Linked DNA regions of Homo sapiens: region 2 is linked to region 1. Evidence: fine-mapped expression QTL. A gene starts in region 1. The other region holds a variant in brackets. All regions are shown on one strand. Distances are between the middles of the regions. Region 1 holds the start of BSDC1 (BSD domain containing 1). Region 2 holds the start of FAM229A (family with sequence similarity 229 member A).

Region 1 (14,825 bases):
AAAGAAGTGTACATAAGTGATACACCCCCAAAATATTAACAGTAGCTATCTTTGGAAGATGGAATTATGGATGTCTCTAGGTCTTTCTCTCTCTCTCTTCCTTTTCTCATTCTTTCTCTTTTCTTTCACTTGTCTGTGTTTTCTAAATTGTCAACATGAATGACTTTGCTAATGGAAAACATTTGCTAAAACAATACAGAAGTGGGAAAACTAATTATTACTTAAAATATGCAGCTTGTTTGGTTGCCAGACACAATTCTTTCAAAATGGGAGGAAAAGTAATCCACATATTTTTCCCCATATGGAAAAATAATCACTTAATGGTAGAAAGGTTGGGAGCCCAGGACAGGACAGGTTGCGAGGGGCAGTTACTTGGGAGGGTTTGGGTGGTACTCACAGCCAGCTTCTCCTTGACCACGCTGGCCGTGGCTGCGATGGTACAGGCCGTGTCATGCTGCACCACCTGGGTAAACTCCGTCAGGTCCCGCTTCATAAACTCCAAGGCTTCAGAGGACTGTGGGAAGACAGAGAGGGATGCCAGGGCCAGCTGGCCCCACCACCCCTTGTTCCTGTTCCCTGTGTTTCTTCAGTACCAGACAGACAAATGGAAATCTCCAGCGGCAGGGGAGCTTCGGCTCAGAAACAATGCTCATTTGTCCCAATTCCATGATCTGGGATTACCTGACAGCAGAGAGTGCAGGGGAATTTCCTGCTACTCTGAGCATGAGGACTGAGTCTCAGCCTAGGCACTCGCAAGCTATGTGGCCATGAGTAAGTCTCATCTAGTTCTCAGTTTTCTCCTGTAAAATGAGGTGATCTAGATCAGAGATTCTCAAGAGCAAACAGGAAAAGAGGGGGCATAGTCTGAAAACAATACTGACTTTGATGAATTGCTTTGATATGCTTTAAATCACGATATTCATACCAAGTTTCAAATAACATGAAAAAAAGGTATGTGATTTTTTTTTTTTTTTCTTGAGACAGAGTCTCGCTCTCGTTGCCCAGGCTGGAGTGCAATGGCACGATCTCGGCTCACCGCAACCTCCGCCTCCCGGGTTCAAGCGATTTTCGTGCCTCAGCCTCCCGAGTAGCTGGGATTACAGGCATGCGCCACCACGCCCAGCTAATTTTGTATTTTTAGTAGAGATGGGGTTTCTCCATGTTGGTCAGGCTGGTCTCGAACTCCCAACCTCAGGTGATCCGCCCACCTTGGCCTCCCAAAGTGTTGAGATTATAGGCGTGAGCCACCCAGCCTAAGGCATGTGATTTTTTTTATCAAAGGAAAGTGTTTCTATTTTTACTTTTTTTGTTACAGAGAAATTGAGTTGAAATATGAGGCAGTATGTGAAGTTATTTGCCTTCGGGTTTAAGAATTAGTAATTACTAATTGTATTAGTAACAGCAATAGCTTGGAAAGCTATTTTATGAGTAATTCTTAACAATTTAATATCAGTAAAAAGGCATGTGATTTTTTACATTCAACAAAGGAGGAAGCGGTCAAGAGAAAGACTAGATCAGATTCTCTTGGAGGCCTTCTTGGTTCTACCATCCCGAGGTTCTATTCATATACAAAGCTCCTTTGGGCAGAATGCATATTTGCTCCTGCTAAACCAATCTGTTTCTCAGCCTGCACCCAGACCTCACTTGAGAAAGCAGACCCTCAGCTCACTTCTAGGTCTTGCCCTGTCTTGCTTCAGACTCACCAACTCTAGGATGCTTCCTGGAGTATCTCAGTGGCCACTCCCCCTGCAAGCCCTTTCATCTTACACGGGGATAATCACCTGCATTTTTTAAAGCATGTTTTTGAGCGCTCCTGTGGTTTGTTCTTCTGGGAAGGGCCTGCCCACTTTTCATTAGCTTGGGAAGTTTCTGAATGGCACAGTCTATCAGCTACAGGCTTCTCTAGGGGTGGTAATCATGCCTCCATATCAACTCAGGACTCCTTAATTGGGGGTGGAGGAGGTCATTTACTTATTTACTTTTATTAAAATTTTAAAAAATATTTCACAGCACCATGAAATTGTGCCCTGGGTCATTTACCGATTCACTCTTTCTATCCACACTGCCACCATCTTAGTCCAGGCCAACTTATTCTTTCACCTGGATTCCTCCCAGGTTGTCTCAGCCACCTTTACTTCATTCTCCTTATGACACCCAGTGGGTGCTTTGTCTGTCAGGGCAGACCGTGCTGCTTTACACTCTTTAAGTTTACACACTATCCTAAGAGCAAATTGAAAATCCACCTTTACTTACAAAGCCTATATAACTTGGCCTCTGGCAGACTGGTATCCCCTACCACTGTGCCGTTCACTGAGCTCCAGCTGGCCTTCCTCAAGTTTCTAAAATGCCCTAGCATCTGTCCTGCCTCAGAGTATCTGAACACATTGTTTCCTCTCCCTGATACAGAGTTCTAACTCTTCAAAAAAACCAAGTCTGTAAACACGATGAAGGAACCCTCTTATCTGGAAAACTCCTGTTCATCCTCAACGTCTATGCTTCATTTCCCTAGAGGGGCTTCCTGCTGCCTCTTCAGGCTCAGCTGGCTCTCCCTGCTTTATCTCTTCTTCTTTTTTTTCTTTTTTTTTTTTTTTGAGATGGAGTTTCGCTCTGTTACCCAGGCTGGAGTGCAGTGGCGCGATCTCTGCTCACTGCAACCTCTGCCTCCCGGGTTCATGCCATTCTCCTGCCTCAGCCTCCCGAGTAGCTGGGACTACAGGCGCCCGCCACCAAGCCCAGCTAATTTTTTGTATTTTTAGTAGAGACGGGATTTCACTGTGTTAGCCAGGATGGTCTCGATCTCCTGACCTCATGATTCGCCCACCTTGGCCTCCCAATTTATCTCTTTTCTAACACTGAACATAGTTTAGACTTCAGATGACCTGTTCAATGTCTGTCTTCCTGGATAAACTGTGAGTTGTGTGAACACAGGTCCTATGTGTTTTGTTCCCTGATGGTTCCCCAGTATCTGACACAGAGCATACAGTAGGTACTCAAAAAATGTTTGCTTGTTAAATTTACATGGACCATTGAAATTTCAATTATGTAACCACTTGTGTGACTAAACAGTTGTCTTCCCGCTAGACTGTGAGCTCTGAGCAGACAAACATGAACATACGTTGCCCTCAAGCAGGTCACAGTCTACTGGGGAAAATGGTCCCATGATAGTGCTGATGTGCAAGGGCAGAGCAGTAGCTGCTGTACTATGGGGAGGTTGGGAAGATGTGGTGACCAGAAGCCTGGAATGGGCCCTTAAAGAATGAACAGGAGTTGGTTAAGAAGTATTGATGTGGGCCAGGTGCAGTGGCTGATGCCTGTAATCCCAGCACTTTGGGAAGCCGAGGCAGGAGGATTGCTTGAGCCCAGGAATTTGAGACCAGTTTGGACACTATGGCAAAACCGTCTCCACACACACACACACACACACACACACAAATACAAAAAATTAGCCAGAAGTGGTGGTACACGCCTATAGTCCCAGCTACCCAGGAGGCTGAGGTGGGAGAATCACCTGAGCCTGGGTGGTTGAGGCTGCAGTGGGCTGTGATCATGCCACTGCACTCCAGTCTGGGTAACAGAGTGAGACCCTGTCTCAAAAAAAAAAAAAAAAAAGAACAGGAGTCAGCTAAGAAGTGTTGACATGGGTTTAGTGACGTCTACAAGCATTACAGTCCTGATGGACATAAAATGTGAAGCAAGAGTGGTGAGGGATAAAGCTGGAGAGGTTGCCAAGGGCAACCAGGGAGAGCCTGGTCAGCCCTATGGATGATGGGGAGCCACCAAAGGTTTGAAGTGGGTGGGACATGAGATTTGCCTTTTCACTAAATTACTCCAGTGACTGGAATGGAGGAAAGGTCCAGAGGCGAGAAGATTAGAAGAGGAAGAAGGAAGACCAGTCAGGAGGCTGCTGCAATAATCCAGGAAAGAAAATAGAAAAATGTGAGTAAGGACAATGCTAGTAAAGATGGAGAGGATGAGACTGGTTCAAGATACAGGAGATGGAAGAAGGTGGATTTGGTGACTGAACAGGTATGTTGACTGAGGGCTAGAAAAGAATCATGGAAGCACCACAGGCTGCTAAAATAGGTGACTGCGTAGATGCAGTACTGCCAGCTAAGTGAGAAAATCCTGGAGGAGGAGCAGTCCTAGAGACAAGGTGGTAACAATGACTTTGGGCACGCAGAACTTGAGATGACTGTGGGCTGTCTAGGATAGCTGTCCAGCAATAGCTATCCTCAAACACTAAAGCTGGCCGGGCATGGTGGCTCATGCCTGTAGTCCCAGCACTTTGGGAGACCAAGGTGGGCAGACTGCTTGAGCCTAGGGGTTTGAGACCAGCCTGGGCAACATGGCGAGATCTCATCTCTACAAAAAATACAAAAATTAGTTGGGCGTGATGGTACACGCCTATAGTCCCAGCTACTTGGGGGCCTGAGGTGGGAGGATTGCTTGAATCCAGGAAGTGGAGGTTGCAGAGAACCATGTTTGCATCACTGCACTTCAGCTTGGGTGACAAAGTGAGAGCCCATCTCAAAACAAAGCAAAACACAACACTAAAGTTCAGGCAAAAGGTCTAAGAGTCGCCCTAACAGGAAAGTGGAGAAGGTGACCCAGGAAGAGTTTGGAAAGTGGACAGAGCAATGGGCTGAGGACAAGTGTCCTCAGACACTACCTGTAGGGGGCAAGCAGAGGAAGAGGAACTCATGAGACAGTTACAAAAGCAACGTCTGGAGAAGTATGTGGAGACTTAAGAATCATGTCACAAATGCCAAGAGAGTAGCGTTTCAAGAGAGGGAGTGATCACTAGCGTCAAATGCAGCAGAATGGTCCAGGAAGATAAGGGCTGAAAACCACCCACTGGATTTGGCAAGCAGTAGGTAAAGCTGACTGAGTAAAGATAAGTTTATAGGTGGTGGCTTTGAGGGTGGGGAGAGAGTTAAAGATCCTGTTTGTTCACCTGAAGTTTCAAAAAGTAGATGAGGTTGTCTCCTGGAAGTGAAAGGGATAAAGCGGCTGAATAGGGGACCCCAGGGAAGAGTTAGGTTTTGGGAAAGTTTCTGAAGTTAAGGGGAGGAGAAGCAAATTGGAGACTGAAGAGTATGTGGGCCCAGATGAGGTTGGGGAATCTGTGATGGAACCAAAAAGCATTTGGTGCCTTTCTCTTTTTAATTTCTTCTTTCTGGTAAGTATGTAGAGCAATGATATGCCTTTCTCTATCAACGTGTATGCACACGTATTTGTGTCAGTCATATTGCCCTTGACAACACACAGGAAGACAGGACAGGAGGAGGTAAGGAGCAGAGGAAAGCAGATGATAGCACCATCTCATAGCTGTGGTCTTCAGGGCAATGTGTTCTAAGGAGTGCTGAGAAGTGAGTGGTCCAGATGGAGCCAGAATGGGACATACAGATAGGAAAGCACCAAAAGACCAAGAAAAAAAATGGAAGGAAAAACGAACTGGGGGTGGTATCTAAGAGGTTTTCCCATCAGCCTCAGCACTTAATAACAGCTAATGCTTATATAGCACTTACTGTATGCTAGGTACTGTTCTTAGTGTTTTACATATATTAACATTTAACCATCACCACAATCTCATCAAGTAGGTATTGTTAGTATTCCCATTTTATAGATGAGGAACTGAGGCCTAGAGAGGTTAAAAACTTGCCCAAGAGGCCAGGCGTGGTGGCTCACACCTGTAATCCTAGCACTTTGGGAGGCCGAGGCAGGCGGATCACCTGAGGTCAGGAGTTTGAGACCAGCCTGGCCAACATGGTGAAACCCTGTCTCTATTGAAAATAGAAAAATTAGCTGGGCGTGGTGGCACATGCCTGTAATCCCAGCTACTCAGGAGGCCGAGGCAGGAGAATCACTTGAACTCAGGAGGCGGAAGTTGCAGAGCTGAGACTGAGCCACTGCACTCCAGCCTGGTAACAGAGCCAGACTTGGTCTCAAAAACAAACAAACAAAAAACAAAAAACACTTGCCCAAGTACATATAAGAGTAAGAAAGTAAAAAAAGGGAAATTACGTCTTTTCTTTCCAAAAAGGCATAAACAACTCCCACCTCCACCCCCACCCCAGCTTTTAACTGGGAATTCCAAGAATGAAGACGGAAGGTTGGCCAACTATCTATTTTTCATAAGTTATGATAAGACCAACCTTGAGACAAACACAGGAGGCCCTCATGCAACATCTGCTGAATGAATGTCAGACTTTCCTGCCAGGAAATTACCCAACAGGAAATATGCTACTATCGGGTCTCTTCTATCAAATGTTAGGGTGCAAGCCTCTCAGTCCTCATCAACAACATAAACAGCTCAGGGCATTCTCAGATTTGCTGGGCTATTGCTGAGAGGCTGTCCAGGAGTACCCAGGATAAGGGAGGAATAAAAACGCTCCCAGATGTCTGGGTGTGGTGGCTCACGCCTATAATCCCAGCACTTTGGGAAGCTGAGGCAGGTGGCTCACCTGAGGTGAGGAGTTCGAGACCAGTCTGGCCAACATGGTGAAACCCTGTCTCTACTAAAAATACAAAAATTAGCCAGGAGTAGTGGCACATGCCTGTAATCCCAGCTACTCGGGAGGCTGAGGCACAAGAATCACTTCAATCTGGGAGGCAGAGGTTGCAGCGAGCTGAGACCGCACCTGTGCACTCCAGCCTAGGTGACAGAGTGAGACTCTGTCTCAAAACAAAACAAAAATACTCCCAGAGTAGAGGACTTATTTAGGTGAGGTCAGAAGCTTCCTGGAGTTGGCCCTGAAGCAGGACTCATCCCAATTGCTTGAGGTAAATAGTAATCAACTTTTCCCACAATTCAGTTGGGCTGATTTTGACAAATAAGCATGAAATGAAACAGGAATACACATTGGCAAATTACCCACTGGCACAGCCAAATATCACTCATCCCACAGAGATTGTTCAGCAAGAAGGCCTTCCACTCTCTGGTGATTAATCTCTCTCTCTCTACTGCCCGTTGCATAGCCCCTACTTAGAACTCATCAGGCACCAGTGTGTATGGCTCATGCTCATCTCTGGCTTGGGTTCTTGCTTTTCATCCTGTCTAGGCAGGGTTGCCCTTGATGAGGTTCCTTCTCCACAGGGGCCTTCCCTGGTGAGTTACTGACTAACCAGAACAGACAAGGTGCCCCTGTACTTTCCTTTCACAGAACTTACCACAACGGTAACTAAACAACTATTTGTTTGGCTACTCGGTTAATGGCTGTCTCTCCACTAGACTGTGAGCTTTGTAAGGCCCAGGATTACATCTGTTTGGCTGAAGTCTGTATCCTCAAGACCTATCAGAGTGCTGGTTGTCGCATATACTCTAATATTTGAATGACTATACGAGTAAGTTTTTTTACTGCTAGAATCTTTTCCTTCAAGACCTGTATCAAATGCTCTCTCTTTCACGAAGAAACTGAATTTCCTGAGCTGGAATAAATTGCTCCTTCCTATGGATTCCTACAAAACGTTCGTTAACTCCAGCCTTTAAAACCATCTTTATTTCACTGTGGCTAGTATCACACTGGTTTGCGTCGAGGTCTGTCTTCCCGTGGACCGGTAGAGGCTAAAAGAAAGGCCCAGGTCAGCCTCATCCTTGAGACTTAGCGCCCGCAAAAGTTGGGCGGGGCTGGTTGGACCAGGTTGCATTGAGGCGGCGCAGGGCCCTGCTGAGGGAAGAAGGGCACGGGCCCGGCTTACCTTCTCTTTGACTGCTTGGTAGCTCTGCTGCAGCCAGCTCCGCCACCATCCCACGTCCTCCCTGTGGAAGACAGACACATCTGGCAGCACCGCGGTGCGATTCCTGCCCGCCCAAGGATCCGGTTTGTTCCCCGCTCAGATGTACCCTGCGGGCCGAGGCTTCGCAGACCGCTTGCCCACCCCCTCACAATGCGACTCCACTCTGCCCTTTCAGATCAGTCCACGCCCCCGCTGATCTCACGTTCCCCACCGGGACTCTCGCCCAGCACCCCAACCCTGGGAGAATTCAGGCCCCAACGCCTAGGAGCAAAACGACAAGCTCACCCTTCCGCCATCTTGCCTGCATGACATCACCACTATTTACTGACCTTTGACTTCCGACACGGCACCGCCCCCTCAAGGACCGCCCCCGAGGCGCTCGGCCCAATCCTCGCGCCGGCACCGCCCTCAGCCCAATCCCCTCCCTGCGCCATCATTAGGTCCCGCCTCCCTGAACTCTATCCAGTCTCTGTCCCGAGTTCGCCCTCAAACTCCGCCCCTGAACTCTCAGTTCAATCGTCATTCAGTCCTGTCCTCAGGCTCCACCAAGCTTGACTCTTTGTCACTGTCCGCAAACGTCGGGTACGGTGGCCTCTATGGACGATGATCAGCCGACAAGCTGGACTGCGGAGAGCTGGGAGCAGAGGGGAGGAGGAGAGATAGCTCGAACGTCAGGATCCCAGAGCGCAGGGTTAGGACCGCCCCCCTTTGTGAAACCAGCTGCGTAGAGGCTGCTTTGTGTCTCTTTGGGCTAATTCAATAAGCCCATATTGCGGGGCTGTGGCCCAGAGTTTGGAGGAATGTGAATAATTCAGAGGCGACTTAGATGCAGCCTTTGGAGGGCTTACGGGTTAATGGGAGACACACACATTCAGTAATCTCAACTTTCGGTGGCCCAGCTCAGAACAACGCCAGGTGGAGGTGGTCTGGAGAAATCCGGAGACCGCCTGGATTGAGTTCTACTGCGATTGGAAGGGAGATTCCACAGCCCACATACTTTGGACTTTAATTAAGGTCAGCCCCTCCACGTGTGCGGTAGATCCCATCGCCTCTTGTTTGCTTAAGGACATAGATCTAGTAATCCCCCCTTCATCTCTTTTCCCTCTGATGACTGCATTTATCCTTGTCATCATCCGTACTGCTGTTTCTCCCATCTCAAAGGCAAACAAAAACCAGCCCTCTCTATATCCCTCACCGTTTCCCTACTCCCCTTTACAGCAAAAGCGTTGCCTACTCACAGTCTGCAACTCCCCTCTCCTCCCATTCTCTCTTGAACTCACTGCAGTTAGGTTTTTGCCTCTCAGACAATCCTTTGAAATAACTTTCTTTTATTTATTTAATTTTATTTAATTTTATTTATTTTATATTTATTTGTAGCTCTGCTGCAGCCAGCTCCGCCACCATCCCACGTCCTCCCTGTGGAAGACGGACACATCTATTTTATTTATTTATTTATTTTTGGTCCTCCCTGTGGAAGACGGAAACATCTATTTTATTTATTTATTTATTTTGAGTCAGAGTCTTGCTCTGTTGCCCGGGCTGGAGTGTAGTGGTGCAATCTCAGCTCGCTGCAACCTCTGCCTCCCGGGTTCAAGCGATTCTCCTGCCTCAGCCTCCCGAGTATCTGGGATTACAGTTGTGCACCACCATGCCCGACTAATTTTTGTATGTTTAGTAGAGATGGGGTTTCACTATGTTGGCCAGGCTTGTCTCGAACTCCTGACTTCAGGTGATCTGCCCTCCTCAGCCTCCCAAAGTGCTGGGATTACAGGCATGAACCACTGCACCCAGCCTGACATAACTTTCTTAAGGTCGCCAAGAGGAATGGCCACTTTTCAGTTCTTGTTTTACATCCGCATCTTATTTGACACAGTTGACCACTTTCTTCATTTGGCTTCCAGGACATCATGCCCTCTTGACTTTCTTCCCCGTTCATTGGCATCTCAGTATTCTTTGCTGTTTTCTCACCGCCTTCTTGTTGCTGGAATGGGATATTCCCTGGGAGAAGGCTCAGCCCTTGGTGTCCTCCTCCTTTTTGATGTTTATAGTCATTCCCCAGATATTCTCATAAAGTCTCATGATTTTATTTATTATTATTTTTTAAGATGGAGTCTCACTCTATTGCCCAGGCTGGAGTGCAGTGGCATGATCTTGGCTCACTGCAACCTCTGCCTCCTGGGTTCAAATGACTCTCCTGCCTCAGCGTCCAGAATAGCTGGGATTACAGGCACCCACCACCACACCCAGCTAATTTTGTATTTTTAGTAGAGATGGGGTTTCACCATGTTGGCCGGGCTGGTCTTGAACTCCTGGCCTCAGGTGATCCACCCACCTCGGCCTCTGAAAGTGCTGGGAGTACAGGCGTGAGCCACTGCTCCTGGCCCATTTTATTTTATTTTTAAGACAGGATCTTACTCTGTCGCCATATTAGTCCATTTTCACACTGCTAATAAAGACATACCTGAGACTGGGCAATTTACAAAAGAAAGAGTTTTACTGGACTCACAGTTCCACATGGCCAGGGAGACCTCACAATGATGGAGGAAGGTGAAAGGCACATCTCACATGGTGGCAGACAAGAGAAGAGAGCTTGTGCAGGGAAACTCCCGATTTTAAAACCATCAGATCTCATGAGAACCATTCACTATTATGAGAAAAGCACGGGAAAAACCCGCCCCCACCATGATTCAGTCATCTCTCACCAGGTCCCTTCTACAACACGTGGGAATTATGGAGCTACAAGATGAGATTTGGGTGGGAACACAGAGCCAAACCATATCAGTTGCCCAGGCTGGAGTGCAGTGGCACGATCATGGCTCACTGCAGCCTTGACTTCCTGAACTCAAGCAATCCTCCTGCCTCAGTCTCCTGAGTAGCTGGGACTACAGGCATGCACCATCAAGCCCAGCTATTATTATTTTTTTAAATAGAGATGAGGTCTCCCTGTGTTGCCTTACTTTTAATTTTTCTTTAGCAGTGCTTCACTATGTTGCCCAGGCTGGTCTCAAACTCCTGGCCTCTAGTGATCCACCCACCTTGGCTTCCCAAAGTGCTGAGATTACAGGTGTGAGCCATCTCACTAATCTCATACTTTTAAATGCCATGTATATGCTGATGGCTCTCAAATTTCCTCTCCAACCCATACATTTTCTCTGAACATCAGGTTCATTTTGTCTATTTGCATGTGTAATAGGTGTATTATTTTTAACATGTCCCAAAACAAACTCTTGATTTATCCACCTCATCTTCCTGCAAACTTTCCCACATTTGTAAATGGAACCTCATTATTCCAGTTGCTCGAGCCAAAAACCTAGGAGTCATCCTTGCTTTCTCACTTTCTTTCATACTCCCAAACTAATCCCATCAGCAAATCCAGTTGGCTCTGCCTTTCAAACAAAACCAGAATCTAGTGACTTCTCACCACCTCCACTGTTATTATGTAGATACAAGCTACCATAATCAATCTCATGGTTAATTACAAGAGCCTCTTAACAAATATTTCTGCATCCACTCTTGCCTTCCTTAAGTCTAGTCTTCATTTGCCTGAAAGTAATCTTTTAAAAGACATACGTCACTGGGAATGCAACTGGTATGGAATACAATATGCCATTTCCTCAAAAAAATTAAACAGAATTACCATATGATCCAGCACTTCCACTTCTGAGTATATACCCAAAAGAATAGAAGGCAAGTACTCAAACAGATATTTGGTGGTTTTTTGTTTGTTTGCTTGTTTGTTTTGAGATGGAGTTTTGCTCTTGTCACCCAGGCTGGAGTGCAATGGCACGATCCCAGCTCACTGCAACCTCTGCCTCCCGGGTTCAAGCAGTTCTCCTGCCTTAGCCTCCCTAGTAGCTGAAACTACAGGCGCATGCCACCACGCCCAGCTAATTTTTTTTTTTTTGAGACAGAGTTTCTTTCTCGTCACCCAAGCTGGAGTGACAAGCAATCTTGGCTCACTGCAACCTCCACCTCCCAGGTTCAAGCGATTCTCCTGCCTCAGCCTCCCAAGTAGCTGGGATTACAGGTGCCCACCACCATGCTCTGCTAATTTTTGTATTTTTAGTGGAGACAGGTTTTCACCATGTTAGTCAGGCTGGTCTTGAACTCCTGACCTTGGGCGATCCACCCACCTCGTCCTCCCAAAGTGCCAGGATTACAGGTATGAGCCACCATACCCAGCCCTGGCTAATTTTTTGAGGTTGAGGCTGCAGTGAGCTGTGACCATGCCACTACATTACTGCCTGTGCAATGGAGAGACCTTGTCTTTAAAACAAAGAAAAACATGTGTGTGTGTGTGTGTATATATATATATATGTATATGTATATACATGCCAGATTACAGCCTTCCTCTGCCCAAAGTTCTGCAATGTCCTCTTATTTCACTCAGAGAAAAAGCCAATAAGTCCTCACAGTCTCCTTTAAGGCCCCGTATAGTTGATCTGACCTCACATTACTGGCCCCCTTAGTCACTCTGCTCCAGACACATTGGCTACTTTGATATTCCCTGAAAATTCCCGGGACTCTCCTGACTTGGGGCCTTTCAACTTGCTGTTCCTTTTGTTTAGACTGCACTTACCTCCAGATATTTATGTGCTTCTAACTTTCACCTCATTCAGATCTTTACTTGAATATAATCTTCTTACTCACCCTGACCACATTATTTAAAATCACAAGTTGCATAACAAGCACCCCCATTTCTCTTCTCTGACATATTGTATATTATACTTTGTTTAAAAAATTGTTTGCCTCCTTCAGACTAGAAATGCAACCTCAATGAAGGCAGGATTTTTGTCTGTCTTGTTCACTTGTCTACGGCTAGCACCTACAACAGTGTTTGGTACATAATAGACACTCAATATTTGTTCAGTGAATGAAAGAATAAATGCAAGGAGAGTGAGGACAAAGACAGGACTAATTTAGAGCAATCTGGAATAGCTAAAAAGAAAAAGGAAAAGAGAGGATGGACGTGAGGCTGTAAAGGTCATTAACATCTCGATTCTTGAGAGCCTTGAATGCAGGACTTAAAATTCATGGACAGAGGAGAGTCACCAAAGGTTTGGAATAAGGAAATGATTTGTGTTGTGAAGATGATGTGATCAAATGATTGAATGCTACTGTTAACAGATCTAACGGTGCCATTGGGGTGAGCACTTTATACAGTGTACCTTCCCAAAAGCTCAATGAGGTGGGAACTATTTTTAATCTACATTTTATAAATGAAGAAGGTGACCAGGCACGGTGACTCATGTAATCCCAGCATTTTGGGAGGCTGAGATGGAAGGATTGCTTGAGCCCAGAAGTTTGAGACCAGTATGGGCAACATAATGGCACCCTATCTCTATTATTATTATTATTATTTTGAGACAGTTTCACTGTGTCGCCCAGGCTGGAGTGCGGTGGTGCAATCTTGGCTTACTGCGACCTCAGCCTCCCAGGTTCAAGCGATTCTCCTGCCTCAACCTCCTGAGTAGCTGGGATTACAGGCGTGCACCACCACACCCAGCTAATTTTTGTATTTTTAGTAGAGACAGGGTTTCGCCATGTTGGCCTGGCTGGTCTTGAACTGCTGACCTCAGGTGATCCGCCTGCCTCAGCCTCCCAAAGTGCTGGGATTACAGGCATGAGCCACTGTGCCCGGCCTCTATTATTTTTTTTTAAATAAAAGTGAAAAAGCTAAGATTCTGAGATATGGGGTGACTTTCTCAAGGTAACACAGCTAGGAAATGGCAGAACTCGGATTTGAACCCAAGGCTGTCTAATAAAATCAAGCTTCTGTGCATTTCATGCTAGTCTTAACTTCTTCCAACCTTATGTCCTGCCTCCCCACCCAGATGATAGCTGCAGGCATCCTGTCCTTCGTTATCTTCACCTTGTCTCATTCCTCACCCCCAGGCCCAGCAGAGTGCTCGCCCATGATGTCCCTAGTGACTGTGGATTCAGTGGGACCCTTTGCTTGGGTTTCTTTGGTCTTCCTTATCTGTTCACCCCAGTACCTTGACCGTTGGCTCCTTTCACTGCCATAACCTCTGGCATCAAACATATTCATCCTTTTTTTTTTTTTTTTTTTGAGGCAGGTCTCACTCTGTCACCCCAGCTGGACTGCACTAGCATGATCATGGCTCACTGCAGCCTCAGCCTTCTAGGCTCAAGTGATCCTCCTGCCTCAGCCTCCTGAGTAGCTGGGACCACAGGCATGTGCCACCATGCCTAATTTAATTTTTTTTTTTTTTGTAGAGATGGAGTCTTGCTATGTTGCCTAGGCTGGTCTACGAACCCCTAGGATCTAGCGATCCACCTGCTTTGGCTTTCCAAAGTATTGGGATTACAGGCATAAACCACTGTGCCCGGCCAATGTCTTCATCCTTAACATTGGGATACTAATTCTGGTTGTTGTAATGACTAAAGAAAATAAATAAAACACCTAGCACATTGCAAGGCATAAAGTCCTCATGTAGGGATTATGATTGTCTTACCTCCTTACCCCTGTCCTCAGAGCCTCATACAATGCTAGGCGCTGGTAGAGGGCTAATGGACATCTGTTGAGTTAAACAGTATGTTGAAAGAACACTGGTTTGGGAGTCAGCAGAGCTAGATTTTAATACTGGTTTATGGGCAGTTGTCACTTTTTCTCTCTGAAATTCAGTTTTTTCACTGTCCTTGGGGCCTCTACAGTCTCCTGCAGCTCTTAGGCAAAGTATGAATGCAGGTAAATCCCACACCCTCAGACCCTCCTTTGACTCAAATCCCCCCTCTGACACTGCTGGACCCCTTTTGGCAGATGATTTTTTTCCTACTCCCCCTACCCACCCCATTAGAATTGGCAGGTGATTCTTATCCCAGGATCCTGGCTTTTGCTCCCAAGGAGCCCTGACACCCAGGTGCCACCAGATGGTGCTGTGGACTCATTCTTCACGGGAAGCTGGCTCCCGGGCTCCCCGGCTCCCTATCTCCCCGGCTCCTAGGAGAGGCCTTCTGGCTCCTCTGGACAGGGTGGGGTTCCTCCGTGGAAGGCTGCTAGGCCTGGGATAATCCTGGGAGGTGACTCAAGCCTTTCAGAAATTTCCAAGGCCCAAGCCCGCCCTCGG
Region 2 (14,825 bases), 27 kb before region 1:
CACTCTGTTGCTCAGGCTGGAGTGCAGTGGTGTGACCTTGGCTCATTGCAGCGTCAAACTCCTGGGCTCAAGCAATCTTCCTGCCTCAGGCTCCCCGGTAGCTAGGACTACAAGCACACGCCACCATACCTGGTTTTTTTGTTTTGTTTTGTTTTTAGAGATGGGATCTTGCTGTTTTCCATGCTGGTCTTGAACTCCTGGGCTCAAGTGATCCTCCTGCCTCAGCCTCCCAAAGTGCTGGGATTACAGGCCTGAGCCACCATGCCTGGCCTATTTTTTTTTTTTTTTTAAGGAAAGGAGGGTTGAGAAGAGAGGAGAAGGAAGTGGGAGAGATGGAAAAAAAGGAAGAATGAGAAGGATTCACTATTTGGGGGCTGGCAGAGTCCAAAGAGACCAGCTGATGCCTTTTTTTTTTAAACCAGTGAGGAAATAGGCCCTTTTAGTAAGCCTCCTACATGGGGACTGCCTGGGAGAGCATTTTATGTGGAAACTGAGAAGGGTATCCCTTTTGGGTGACGTGGAATTTTAAGGTGCTCTAGGGAAAGCTTGGACTTCTCTACCCTATGAGGATTAGAGGAGGGTGTTGAATCAATTGTCCTTAGATCTCAGGGGACAGGAGACTGAACCTGACCTTTAGGTTACACTCCCCCCGTAACAAAATTGGAAAGTAGAATATACGGGCTCATTAAAGCCAAATTGGAAAGTAGGAAATAGTTGTTTAGCTTAAATACTAGCACCTCCAGGCAGGCTTCCTGTCATGGGCCCCTCCGAGGGCAGATCTTAGGTCATGTGGTCTCAGGATGCTGAGGAGTGTGCTAGACTCTCATTGGGGGACCTTGGGTAAGTCTCAAAGGCTCAGTTCACTCATCTGTAAAATAGGAAGTTAAACCAACGTCTTTCTTTCTCTCTCTTTTTTTTTTTTTTTTGGATAGAGTCTTGCTCTGTTGCCCAGGCTGGAGTGCAGTGGCATGATCTCAGCTCACTGCAACCTCTGCCTCCTGGGTTCAAGGAATTCTCCTGCCTCAGCCTCCCGAGTGGCTGGGATTACAGGTGCGTACCACCACACCCAGCTAATTTTTGTATTTTTAGTAGAGACGGGGTTTCGCCATGTTGGCCAGGCTGGTCTCGAACTCCTGACCTTGTGATCCACCTGCCTCGGTCTCCCAAAGTGCTGGGATTACAGGCGTGAGCCACCGCGCCTGGCAAGCCACCATTTTTCAAATGGCCTCTTCCCCAATCTTTTTATGATCACTTCAGTCCTGGGAGAAACCAAGGCTCAGGATGGACTGGGGCAGCTCCAAACCCTTCCAATAAGGAAGGTCCCAGGCACCTAGGGCCACAAAGAGCAAGTCGCAGAACTTTGTCGCAGAACTTCTCGCTCGAGAGGATTAAAATGGGTCTGGTCGGGTGCCTGTAGTCCCAGCTACTTGGGAGGCTGAGGCAGGAGAATTGTTTGAACCTGGGAGGCAGAGGTTGCAGTGAACAGAGATCATGCCACTGCAGTCCAGCCTGGGAAACAGAGCGAGACTCCATCTCATAGATAGATAGATAGATAGATAGATAGATAGATAGATAGATAGATAGATGATAGATAGATAAGATAGATAGATAGCCTGGTGTGGGTGGCCTATGGCTGTATTCTATGTTACTTGTCGGTCCACCTCTTCCTCCTGTTCCCCGCTTCTGTGGGTTGCCAGGGTCCAGCACAGTGATGTGAATTTCACCGGAGAATCACCAGAGGGTTAGAGAGATGGACCAGGGCAGGGCCCAAGGGAAAGGCTGCCCAGGAGGGGTCAGGACCAGCAAGATACGAGAGGAGTGAAGTGGCGTAGGTTGAAAGGCGGAAGGGCGGGCCCCTAAGGCTGGGTCCAAACGAGGAGGCTGCGGAAGGGAAAGTGTTATTGGACTGGGCAGAGCAGCTGGTGGGCCCGACGGATAGACATACACTGCCAGCCCGGAGTGGAAAGAACAGTTTGTGCTGTGCTTTATTAAAATGTGCATCATTCTTTTATTTTAAAATGTGCATCATTGTCTCGTGCTCGGCGCATGCGACCTCAGCGTGGTGGCCCGCTGGGGGCCTCGTTCCCGCCCAGCTCCCGCGGAGCCGCAGGGAGCAGGCGCACTCACGTGGCGCGGGCCCGGGGGCTCCCGCCCATGGCGAGGTAGACGTCGATGGGCACGTGCAGCAGCGTCAGGCAGTGGCATCCAGGGCAGCGACGAAGCGGCCTGGGGAAATTGACGCGCGACAGGGGCCGCTGAGGCAGGGGCTTGGCCCATCCTGTGGGGCGCACCCAGGGAGTGCACCTGGGGTCCCCGGGGGTCCGGACGTGGATGCGGGGTCCTGACTGCTGGGGGCGCCAAGTGGGACGGAGGGCGGGGCCGCGGGACGGGCGGAGGCGGGGGTGGGGCGCGGGCCTTACCTGACCGGGTTGTGCTCCGTCGCTACCGCCTCCGGGCTGTCCTGGGACTCGGGGGCGGCGGCAAGGCCACGGGAGTCTCCGGCCTCAATGGGGAATCTCCGACCCTGCGGGGGCTCCTGGGCGCTCATGTCCAAGCCCCGGGGCGCTCTGCGCGGGGAGTGGCGGTCAGGCCTCTCCCGGGTCGCCGGGCGCCGCCGCCTCGCGCCCGCCCCCTGGGCCGTCGCTCACCTCCCGGCGGTTGAGACCGGTCCCAGGCTAGAAGCAGCTGCCGGAGCCCTGGCCGCGGGAGAACGCTCCGGTCCAGGCGGAGCCGGGCAGGTCTCTGTGGCGTGCCCGGGCCCGGGCGTCGAGGAGGGCAGCATTGTGACCCGGGCCGCGGCGCGCTGACCTCACAGAGCACGTTCCTCCCACTGGAGAACCCCCAACGGTGCCCCCTGCCGCCCCTGGCACTCAGCGCGGGCCAGAATCGGGGACTGGAGGCCTCTGGCCATGGCGCCTGGAGACGGGGTCGCGCAGACCCCGGACACCCGAGGGGGGCGCAGCAGGCCAGGGCAACCCGCCGCGAGGCGGCGTCCACGCCGAGGAGCCGCGCATTCCCGGTCCACACAGACGCGGCGGAGCGCCCTCCCAGGCGGGACTACAACTCAATGCCTGGCACGGGGGCGGGCTCGGCGGTGACTTAATCCGGGCTGAGTTTGGTGGTGGTAGTGAGGGCAGGTAGGGGCACTGCCCATTTTGGCCAAGGGTCACACAGCATCTACATCACAATTGCACCGGAGTTTAAAAATGTCTGGCCCTGTCCCTCCCCACCACCCGCCGCTGTGTCCAGACAGAGAATGTTCTAACGCTGGGGGCGGCTGCGGATGAAGTCCTTGGGGAGAAAAGGAGCAGGCCAAGGGCGATGGTGGAGTAGAGCTGCCTCTCAGAGGCAGCATGAGCTGAGAGGGTGATAGGAAGGCGGCGCTAGACAGCATGGAGGACTTTCTGCTCTCCAATGGGTACCAGCTGGGCAAGACCATTGGGGAAGGGACCTACTCAAAAGTCAAAGAAGCATTTTCCAAAAAACACCAAAGAAAAGTGGCAATTAAAGTTATAGACAAGATGGGAGGGCCAGAAGGTGAGCCGGGGCCCCTTTGGAGGGAAGGAGGGAGGACTGGCTGAGGTGGGTGGGTGCTTCCTCCTGTTTGTTAGAACGATCATTCGATCATTCCCTGCTCCCGCTGGCCTGGAACCAAGCAAGCCCGATGGCAGCTCTGGAGTGGGTCAGTGGGGAACAGAGGGGTTCTGGGAGTCCAGGAACATTACACCCCCCCAGAATGCAAGATGAAAGTGGCATGAGGTGAAGGATCCTCAGAGGCAAAACCTGAGCCAGGCTTTCCTTTCCGGCAGGGGAACAGAGACTGGCAGAGGCCACAACCAGGGCTGGTAGAGAACAGGGGCTGGTGCCAAGGCCCGTGGAGATGGGAAAAAGGAAGACAGGGCTCATGGAAAGAATTGTGGGGTCAGGGGACAGTGGCGGGAGGAGCTGGCTCACCACCCTGTGGACAAATCAGGCCTTATAATTTGTGATTCTGTGGCTTTGTCTAAAAGTCCCTAAAGCACCTTGATATCCAGTCTCACAGACTGCTCACAACAGTCCACAAGGCTGGTGGGGAGTGCTTCTTTTGAATGATATACTAACGACAAAAATAATAGAAGTGAACATTCTTTGCAATGTCCAAGCAGCTAGACACACTTAAGACCATTAAGAAAGCCAAGAAATAAGACCCAGACAAGGTGGGCAGAAGTTGGAAGGCAGGAGACAGGTGTGAGGAGGTGGGCCTTTCTGATCTGCCAGCCCATCTCTCCTCCCCTTACTTCCTCAGAGTTTATCCAGAGATTCCTCCCTCGGGAGCTCCAAATCGTCCGTACCCTGGACCACAAGAACATCATCCAGGTGTATGAGATGCTGGAGTCTGCCGACGGGAAAATCTGCCTGGTGATGGAGCTCGCTGAGGGAGGGGATGTCTTTGACTGCGTGCTGAATGGGGGGCCACTGCCTGAAAGCCGGGCCAAGGCCCTCTTCCGTCAGATGGTTGAGGCCATCCGCTACTGCCATGGCTGTGGTGTGGCCCACCGGGACCTCAAATGTGAGAACGCCTTGTTGCAGGGCTTCAACCTGAAGCTGACTGACTTTGGCTTTGCCAAGGTGTTGCCCAAGTCACACCGGGAGCTGAGCCAGACCTTCTGCGGCAGTACAGCCTATGCTGCCCCCGAGGTGCTGCAGGGCATTCCCCACGATAGCAAAAAAGGTGATGTCTGGAGCATGGGTGTGGTCCTGTATGTCATGCTCTGTGCCAGCCTACCTTTTGACGACACAGACATCCCCAAGATGCTGTGGCAGCAGCAGAAGGGGGTGTCCTTCCCCACTCATCTGAGCATCTCGGCCGATTGCCAGGACCTGCTCAAGAGGCTCCTGGAACCCGATATGATCCTCCGGCCTTCAATTGAAGAAGTTAGTTGGCATCCATGGCTAGCAAGCACTTGATAAAAGCAATGGCAAGTGCTCTCCAATAAAGTAGGGGGAGAAAGCAAACCCAAAAACCCGCTTCTAAAATGGTGATATATATTTTACGCTTTAAGTTTACTTATCCTAAAACTTACCTACATCTACCCCAGCCTTACTACTACTCTTTCCTTTTAGAGATCTTCATGGAATCAAAGGGCCTCATTCAGACTTCCTTTTTTTTTTTTAAGAGTCTTGCTCTGTCGCCCAGGCTGGAATGCAGTGGCACGATTCCAGTTCACTGCAACTCTGCTTCCCAGGTTCAAGCGATTCTCCTGCCTCAGCCTCCCCAGTAGCTGGGATTACAGGCACCTCCCACCACGCCTGGCTATTTCTGTATTTTTAGTAGAGATGGGGTTTCACCATGTTGGCCAGGCTGGTCTGGAACTCCTGACCTTAGTGATCCACCCACCTTGGCCTCCCAAAATGTTGGGATTACAGGCATGAGCCACTGCGCCTGGCATGACAAGTGATTTTCATACTAAAGTTAATTAAAATAGACCCAAGAATCATATACAAACAGGGGGAAGAGAGGATAAAAATGACCAAGAGCAACTGAAGCCATTCTTGTTGCAACTTCCTTTCCAAAGGAAAGCAGAGGCACTGGGAGTGCAGAGATGGCCTCCCGACTCCTTGTCCCAGTGAGAGGCCTGTTGCGAGCCCTGACCCTTTCTCATCCCAAAGGCAAAGCTGAATCTGGGATGAGGACAAGGTACGTCCTCTGGACCTAGGCTATCCCCCTACCCTGTCTCTGGCTCCAAGTGGGAAGCCAGTCCTGCCCTGGCCCAGTGCAGCTGCCAAGGGGACAAAAACAGACCCCCAGACACCTTTCAGCTTCGGGTGAATCACTTTAATGCTGTTAACGGCAAGTCTGTAAAAGGTTCAGGACAAAGTTCTTTTTTCTTTCTTTTTTAATTATAAAACTAACAGCTGTTAGAATCTTTTTTTCTTTTTTTCCTTTTTTCTTTTCCCAGCTACAAAATACTCTGGGGAGATGCATTATAATTTAAAATATATAATATTGCACAAACAACCAAAAGGTTAATTAAACTAAAGAAATAATTACAAAGAGAAAAACCCCATCCCGTCAAAAAAAAGATTCAGCATTCTCTCCATCCCACCCCCTCACTGAAGGTTTGAAGTGGAAGTGACCTCACTCTCTCGGTGTCCCTGACCCACGATCCCTTTCACTCATTGGTGAGCACACCAGATTAGGTACAAGAATCACCA[G/A]AGCAGCATCGTGAAGCACCAGGCTCTCCAGAGATTCCTGCAGCCCCTCATTCCCCCAGAGGTGCAGCTTTACCAGAGTGGAGGGTGAGAGCACAAAGGCTGGGTCTGTCTTCAGGAAGAAGAGCTTTTGCAGAAGCCTGATGAGAGTTTCAAGTTCACCCCCAGGATAGCCCTTCCAGAAGCAGAAGGGCTGAGGCGGAGAAGCTAGGCTTACCAGAGTTGTAAGTACTCGGCTTTGATCACCGCTCTGTACCGCTGGTAGCTGTTTTGTGTCCTAAACTACAGGGGAGTTGAGGTGGGTAGCTGGTTGGACAAGGTATCCTGCCAGGCAACACACAGAAGGGCCTGAAGTAGCCCCCTCCCTTCTTGGGGAGGGGAAGAAACGCAAGAGCGAACTCCTGCAGGTGGCACAGCTGGGCTAAGGACTTGGGTGCATCCGACATGAAGAAGCCCTGGGAAGGCATGGGGACAGACCAGCGTGGGCTGGAGGAAAGGAAGGAGGTGGGTCAGGGTTTGGTCTCTGGATTCTGAACCCCAAAGGAGCCTTTCCAGGAATGGAAAATGCCTGGGAGGGGGAGAGTCCCAAGAGAGGCAAATTTCCCAGAGATAAGTGCCTCTTACCCACTGGGATAGGAACCAAAATGTGTTCACTGTCCCTGTTTAGCCAAGGGTAGGTGGCATGGCCCTCCCTGCCTGCTTATGTATGGACAGAGTATGTTGTCTCAGCTTCCTCCGAGAGAGACTGGTGGTTTAGCTTCTGTCTACACAGGCAGAAGGGCTAGAACTATCCCTTGGGACTTCCCAGCAGGAGTCCTCAGGAACAGTGGGTGTTCAGCAGAAAAACACAGGCTCTTCTGGTGAGGAGGATAGGTTTCCTCTCCCTTGGGTCATCCTATTGTTGGCACAAGTCAGAGTTTCTGGCCGGGATTTAGAGAGCCCCTTCCCAGGTGTGAGCAGAGGCCCAAGAGGGCCAGCAGGGAGCCACCAGAATCTGTGCCCAGAGCTCTGGTTGGCAGAGGAGATTTGGGGGAACATTCTCAGTCTTCCAGGGCTGGGCTGAGACGAGCGAGGGAGGCGAGAGATGCCATGGGTGGGGGAGCTGCTCCCTCTGGCTCCCTCACTCCCAGTCCTCCCACTCTACATCTTCCAGCTGCAAATGGGAGGGGGTAATGGAAATCACAAACACATAGTTACTCCTGAGTCAGGCCCAGACCTAACCTCCACTTGCTGAGCAGAGCCACCTCCCATCCCCTACCCCAGGCCATACTCTGAGGTCCCACTGAGAGTGAACCCCTAGTCTTAAGGAATGTGTCTGAGGGGCAGAGCTGCCCTCTGCCTGAGGGGTGGGCCTGATGCTCTGATTACCTCAGACCTAAAGGAAACACTTCCCCCAACCAACACCAGACACCACAAGGTGATGGCTGCCTACAGGAACCAAGTCAGCCTCAGTCCTTTAAGGAGAACTTGCCTCCTGCTGAGCAGATAATGCCATGGCTCTGAGAAGCAGAGAACTCAGGAGGCCTGAGCAGATACTTGGCCCTGGACACAAAAGACCAGTGTAATCAAGGGCAAGTTACTTAGTCTTTGGGTGAATGGAGGCCACTGCCTGAGTGGCACTGTGGCCAAAAGCAGAGGTGGCAGTGGCCTACAGATGCCCACTAGGTCTTCACTAGGGGCACCAACACCCTAATTCCCAGCTCAAGTCTCCCCACGGAACGTTTTCTTGCTTTGTTCCTACTCTTGGCCTGCTGTCGGCTAAGCCCTGGTATAGCAGGTTCTAGAATGCTCACGTGTACTGCACGTCAGGTTTTAAAGGGGGCTGCAAAGACACAAAAAGCCAGCAAGCCCCTGTGGCCTGACAGGGCACTATGGGCTTTCTCTGTCCTGGGTATAGTGAGGTAGTCACAAGTGCAAAATACTCCTGAGTAGGTAAAATACTCCCCCAAGGCTTCAGTTTCCCATCATGAAAAAGGAGGCCCTTCACATGTCTCTCTAATCTGTCCACCTCTTTCTAACAGGCTCATAAGTTACATGATGGAAGGACTCATGTGGTTCTTATGTGACAGTGGAACTAACGCTGACATGAATCAGATGTCTGGGTTGCAGCCTCAGTCCTGTCACTTATTAGCTGGGAGAGCTTTGGACTGTTCCAGCCTCTCAATCTAAATGAGCCACTTTTGATTCTGAGAGGTAGTGAAGAATAACAGTACTAAGGCCTCCTTGAGCTTAATAACTGGAATGGGTTTTGTGGGGTTTATCACTAATGTCTCCTGAGTGCTGGTCACCATGTCTCAGGCAATAGCCCTAAGGTGTCTACATGGATCACCTCATTACAGCTTATAGCCAGGTCTTATAATGATCAATTCCATGTTTTAGATGAGGAACCAGGGGCTCAGGTTAAGTAACTTGCCCTTGCCCTTGATCACACTGGTCTTTTGTCTCCAAGGCCAAGTATATACTCAGGCCTCATACCTGAGGACCACAACTCAGAAGGTCAGGCAGGGTTTGATGTCTGTTTTCTTTTTTCCTTTTTTTTTTTTTTTCAAAAACAGAAATGGGGTCTCACTATATTGGCCAGGCTGGTCTTGAACTCCTCGCCTCAAGCAATCCTCCCACCTTGGCCTCCCAAAGTGTTGGGATTACAGGTGTGAGCCACCGCGCTCAGCATGACATCTGTTTTCTTAAGCAGTTTCTCAGGCAATTTTGATACAGAGCTAAGGTCAAGAACTTGACCCTCTATCCACCCTGGAACTGAGGAAAAGTGCAGCCTGCTGATGACCAATGTTGTGGGTCTGAGCAGGAAGCTCCAGCTCCTTTCCCACCACCTGTCACCTCAGACAGGAGCAGGGACCCTCCTGAGGGGACAGCTGGGCTGGCTGGGGAGAGCTCTCACACCCAGGACCATTAGGCTCGCTTCCCTCTGACCCACCAGGCCCACTCACCTCCCCGGAGGCATCCACTTTGGAAAGTGCCATCTGCACCTCCTCTTCAGTCATGTCCAAGTCAAAGTCTTTCTCCCAGTCCTCACTGATGTCCGTGCTTGAGCCTGGAACCACGAGCCACAGTGTGAAAAGCAGGAGGAGGCAGGGAAGGGGCACCTGAAGAGGGTGTAGCTGGGGAGATAGCATGCTTCAAAAGGGTCTCACAAATACACAAGTCTTTACATTTTGTGTTCACTCTGGCGCACCAATCGTACTTTTTTTTTTTGTTTTCTTAGATGGAGTCTTGCTGTCACCCAGGCTGGAGTGCAGTGGTGTGATCCCGGCCCACTGCAACCTCTGCTTCCCAGGTTCAAGCGATTCTCCTGCCTCAGCCTCCCAAGTAGCTGGGACTACAGGCGCACGCCCCACACACCTGGCTAATTTTTGTATTTTTAGTAGAGACGGGGTTTCACCATGTTGGCCAGGCTGGTTTCAAACTCCTGACCTCAATGATCTGGCCACCTCGGCCTCCCAAGGTGCTGGGATTATAGGTGTGAGCCACCGCACCTGGCCCCCACTTTTAAGAATCTATTCTAAGGAAAAATCTTGGATTCAGTCAGAAATTTAGCAAAGAGTGTTCACTGCAGTGCTGTCATAGTGATGGAAACCTAGAAACAATCTGAAAGCCCACTGACAGGGAATTAGACAAGTAAACAGTGAGTTACATGGTGGAACACTGTAGGCTGTTAGAGGTTAGGCTGGAGAAGAACTTCACATCCATGCCAAACAGCCTTAAACTATTACCTCGGAAAAGGCAGGTTACTAAAGAGCGGAGAAGCACTTTGGCCCAGAGGCTCCAAGAGAGTCACAGAAATCTTCCAGAGGAAATCAACAGTGAACTGAGACCTTGTCTCTAGAAAAAAATTTAAAAATTAGCCAGGCATGGTAGTACACACCTAAGGAGTCCCAGCTACTCAGGAGGCTGAGGTGTGGTGATCACTTGAGCCCAGGAGTTCAAGGCTGCAGTGAGCTATGATCATGCCACTGCAGTCCAGCCTGTTGACAGTGCAAAACCCTGTCTCTAAAGAAAACAAAAACCTCCCCTCGGACCCCCAAACAGTAGACCTCTTCTTCCTCACTCCATTCTGCCCACACTAATCTTGTTCCTCCAGAAACATACCAGGCGCATTCCCAACTTAGGGCTTTTGCATGGGCTGTTCCCTGCACCTGGAACTCGTATCCTCAGATATCTACAAGACCAACTTTTCACCTCCTTCATGCCATTGCTCAAATCGTACCTTCTAGATGTGGCCTACACTGACCATCCTAGTTTAAAGAGCAACCCATCATCACCCTCACTCTGCTCTAGTTGTTCTTTTTTTTCTGAGACAGAGTCTCGCTCTGTCACCCAGGCTGGAGTGCAGTGGCACGATCTCAGCTCCCTGCAACCTCCGCCTCCTGGGTTCAAGAGATTCTCTTGCCTCAGCCTCCTGAGTAGCTGGGATTACAGGCACCTGCCTGGTACCACATCCAGCTAATTTTTGTATTTTTACTTATTTATTTATTTTTTGAGACGGAGTCTCGCTCTGTTGCCCAGGCTGGAGTGCAGTGGCGCGATCCTAGCTCACTGCAACCTCTGCCTCGCAGGTTCAAGTGATTCTCCTGCCTCAGCCTCCTGAGTAGCTGAGATTACAGGGGCATGCCACCATGCCTGGATAATTTTTGTATTTTTAGTAGAAACGGGGTTTCACTATGTTGGCCAGGCTGGTCTCAAACTCCTGACCTTAGGTGATCCGCCTGCTTTGACCTCCCAAAGTACTGGGATTATAGGCGTGAGCCACTGCGCCTGGCTCTGGATTGTTCTTTTTCCCATTGTAGTGATCACTTTCTAACATATTACATAATCAGACTTAATATGTTTATTGTATATTAATAGAGGAGTTAGAATATAAGCCCTGTGAGTGCCAGGATCTTTTGTTTTGTTCTCTTATGTATTTCAAGTTTTTAGAACACATAGTTGGCACTCAATAGTCACAGACCCTTTCTGTAAACCAGGGGTTGGCAAACTATGGCCCAGGGATCAAATCTAGCCATGTCGCCGGGCGTGGTGGCTCACGCTTGTAATCCCAGCACTTTGGGAGGCCGAGACAGGTGGATCACGAGGTCAGAAGATCGAGACCACCCTGGCTAATGTGGTGAAACCCCATCTCTACTAAAAATACAAAAAATTAGCTGGGGGTGGTGGCAAGCGCCTGTTAGTCCCAGCTACTCGGGAGGCTGAGGCAGAAGAATCGCTTGAACCCGGGAGGCAGAGCTTGCAGTGAGCCAAGATCCCGCCATTGCACTCCAGCCTGGGTGACAGAGTGAGACTCCGTCTCAAAAAAAAAAAAAAAAAAAAAAAAAAAAATTCTAGCCATGTCACATCATTTGTTTACATACTGTCTATGGCTGCTTTCATGCTGCAAGAGCGGAGATGAGTAATTTTGACTGCATGGCCCAAAAAGCCTAAAATATTTATGGTCTGGTCCTATACAGAAAAAGCTTACCACCCTCTGCTCTAGATGATTCTGATGCCTGTCTGTACTATTTGATGATCATTGCTCTAAACATTCATATTTGGCTATGACTTCTTACAGGTAATATTAAAAAGATATATATAAAAGTTATTACTAAGAAGTAAACTACACAAATAGTTCCTTTCAATAAAGCATGTACAGTAAGATTCCAGCTTTAAAATGTGCCCATAGATGCATGCACACATGCAGAAGAGATGAGCAAGATATCCAAATACACTAGCAAAGTTATCTCTAGGTGATGAGTTCATGAGGTGATTTTCCTTAATTTTTTTCCTAAAATGAACACATACGACTTTGTAATCTTTTTTTTTTTTTTTTTTTTTTTATTTGAGATGGAGTCTCACTCTCGCCCAGGCTGGAGTGCAGTGGCACAATCTCGGCTCACTGCAAGCTCTGCCTCCTGGGTTCACACCATTCTCCTGCCTCAGCCTCCTGAGTAGCTGGGACTACAGGCGCCCGCCACCACGCCCGGCTAATTTTTTATATTTTTAGTAGAGATGGGGTTTCACCGTGTTAGCCAGGATGGTCTCGATCTCCTGACCTCGTGATCTGCCCGCCTCGGCTTCCCAAAGTGCTGAGATTACAAGCGTGAGCCACCGCACCCAGCCTGTAGTCTTTTTTTTTAAGTACCTTTAAAAAGAGTGGGTCCCTGATCCTCCAACGGCATGACCAGTAAACATCTCCGTTTCTTCTTCTCCGACCTACTCCTCACCAGATGCCTCCGCGCTGAGACCTACCCCTCAGCCCCGCTCCCACATTCCTTCTATGGTATCCTGCATCATCCTCTCTTCTAGCCAGAGCATGGTCTCTGGGGCCAGGCAGACCTGGGTTGAATACCTACTCCTTTACTGTGTAGTCTTGGGCAAATTATTGTTGGCTTCAGTCTATTTATAAAATATGGATAAAAGCAACCTCTGCAAAGAACCACTGGAGAAGCGTATTAAAATACAGACTCCTACCCTGCCCACCCCCAGTCCCAACTAAGACTCAGCAGGTCTAGCTGGTGGCTGGGAAGGCTGCATTATAAGCAGGTACCTGTGTGTTCTGTGTAGACCTGGCCCTGCCGTTTGAGAAACAATGGTGTTAGAATTAGAGGTATGAATGTAAAGTGCCTATTACATACATACACATGGCTATGTAATGAATGGTGCTGCCTTTCTTCTAAGGGCCTTGTCTCAGAGTTATGTCATTCTGTACACGGTACCTCAGGAAGTCAGGGCAGCCAAGACCCAGCTCTTCTGACTCTGCACCTACATCCCTCTGTGCCTTCAGGACACTTAGGTGACATTCATCTGGCTGTCACCACAGGCTTCCTGTGGGTTAGCCAGACTCTTCGCTGCTTCCTCACTTCAGGGCTTTGGTTGTGGCCATGACAGCTTTCCCTAACCTCAGGTTGCCCTCTAGGGACTTGAAACTGTCTCTTCAGGCTTAAATGCTATGGCAGAACCTTTCAGGGGTAGAGAACAGAGTATCCACTAACATTTCTGGAATATTCCACATCTAGCTCTTGGGTGGGTATTAACAGTCCCAGTATACGGATGAGGAAATGAAGGCTTCAGGTGGTGCAGGGAGCTGTGAAGCTGGGTTCTCTCTGCCATCTGCCTCCTTCCACCGTCCTACCCTGTCACACAAGGAGAGCACTAAGATCTCCATTACAATGTGCATGTGGCAGAGAGGTGGCCTATGCTACAATTTAAGACTTCAGAATGGAGTTCTACTGGTTTGGTTTTGAAAATGGAAGTTTTCGGGTGATTGCTAACTTTGTAGTGCTGTCACTCACAGCTCATTTTATTCTGTTTAATCGGCTCTCTGCTTCCCCAGTTAAGAAATAGAGGCAAAACTGCTCTTAGGTCACACGGTCATGAAGTGAGGTCTTAACCTCCAGGCTCCTTCCAGGCCACAGGCCTGCCCCAATCTCTCCTCCCCTTCTCTGCAGAAAGAAGTCCAGTCTCTCAGAACAGACGAATGCTGTGACAAAACATAGGTGGAAAGCAGCTCTGCGATGACAGGGATCACCCTGGGAACCAGTAAAACCCTTTGGCTAGGGTACCCCAAGAGACTCTGCTATACCCAGAGACCAAGCCTTATGTCACCCTAGGACTTGGGCCCAACAGGAAAAAGGAGTCACTTTGTCTCCAAGCCCCCATTCTTCTTTTTATTTCTTCTACTCTGTTCCCACTGTTCCAGCCTAGTCCAAGACTCTGGCTTCCTCCCACCTGACTACGGTTGTTTCTTGTGAGTCTTCTATAGCACATCCTCAGCCTCTCCTTTCACAGGCCCTGAGGGCAGCAGAGGCAGCATAGCAGAGTAGTTAAGAGCTTATGTTTACCTCTCCTGTAATTTCAATTCCATCCAGTCTCCAACCACTACTGATTTTTTCTGATCACCCTTTGTAGCCCAATTCCAAATGAAACCTATAATTTGTAACCCTCCAACTGTTTCACTATCCCTCATTCTCTCCCGTACTCAGCTCAGATTCCATGAGGCATCATTCTTATCACTTCTTGCATATACTTTCTTTTCTTTCCTATTTTTTTGAGACAGGGTCTCAGCTCTGTCACCCAGGCTGGAGGGCAGTGCAGCAATCTCAACTCACTGCAGCCTCAACCTCCCCACTCAGGTGATCCTCCCACCTCAGCCTCCCGAGTAGCTGGGACTACAGGCACGTGCCACCACATCTGGCTAATTTTTTGTATTTTCTGTAGAGATGGGGTTTCATCACAATGCCAGGGCTGGTCTTAAACTCCTGGGCTCAAGCGATCCACCTGCCTCAGCCTCCCTTAAGTACTGCAATTATAGGTGTGAGCCACTGTGCCCAGCGGACTTTCTTCTTTTCATCAACTGATTTTACCTGGCTAAACTTGAACCTAATTAGATCCAACTCCCCATCTGCTCTGTTCCTGCACCTGAGCAACTGAATATGGCTGAACAAAAATACAACATGTTGATGGTCTCACTTAAAACCTACAATCACAACCTCAGTGGGCCCTGGGACCATCCACCCAGCAACCCTATTACACCTGTCAGGCCCACCACCTACTCCTCCCTCTTCTACAGGACTATTTCACACTGAAATATTTACTGGGTGGGTCACTGATCTCAGGTTCCTACCACTAGAAATATGAGAAAAAGT

What was found. PIP is the estimated chance that this variant, and not a neighbour inherited with it, causes the effect. A credible set is the group of variants that fine-mapping cannot tell apart.
Region 2: its variant is the best candidate, but not a certain one, in a credible set for the expression of BSDC1 in blood mononuclear cells (TOPMed, PIP 0.69).

Annotation. Positions count from the first base shown.
Region 1 is chr1:32,386,382-32,401,206 of GRCh38, forward strand. BSDC1 (BSD domain containing 1) reads right to left here and starts at 8,060. Exons shown (of 11, transcript NM_018045.8): 1 at 8,023-8,060; 2 at 7,699-7,759; 3 at 398-514. The coding sequence starts at 8,033. RefSeq lists enhancers at 7,101-7,798, 7,786-8,075, 7,799-8,494, 8,366-8,445, 9,193-9,888 and 1 more.
Region 2 is chr1:32,359,310-32,374,134 of GRCh38, forward strand. FAM229A (family with sequence similarity 229 member A) reads right to left here and starts at 3,176. Exons shown (of 3, transcript NM_001167676.2): 1 at 2,649-3,176; 2 at 2,421-2,567; 3 at 1,961-2,226. The coding sequence starts at 2,782. The coding sequence ends at 2,124. It overlaps TSSK3 (testis specific serine kinase 3), which reads left to right and starts at 3,230. Exons shown (of 2, transcript NM_052841.4): 1 at 3,230-3,537; 2 at 4,286-5,003. The coding sequence starts at 3,393. The coding sequence ends at 4,947. It overlaps BSDC1 (BSD domain containing 1), which reads right to left. Exons shown (of 11, transcript NM_018045.8): 10 at 9,138-9,241; 11 at 5,324-7,345. The coding sequence ends at 7,313. LOC124903933 (a long non-coding RNA gene) reads left to right here. Exons shown (of 3, transcript XR_007065642.1): 3 at 1-2,019. RefSeq lists silencers at 2,458-2,757, 2,908-3,107. The variant G/A (reference allele first, on the strand shown) is at 6,196.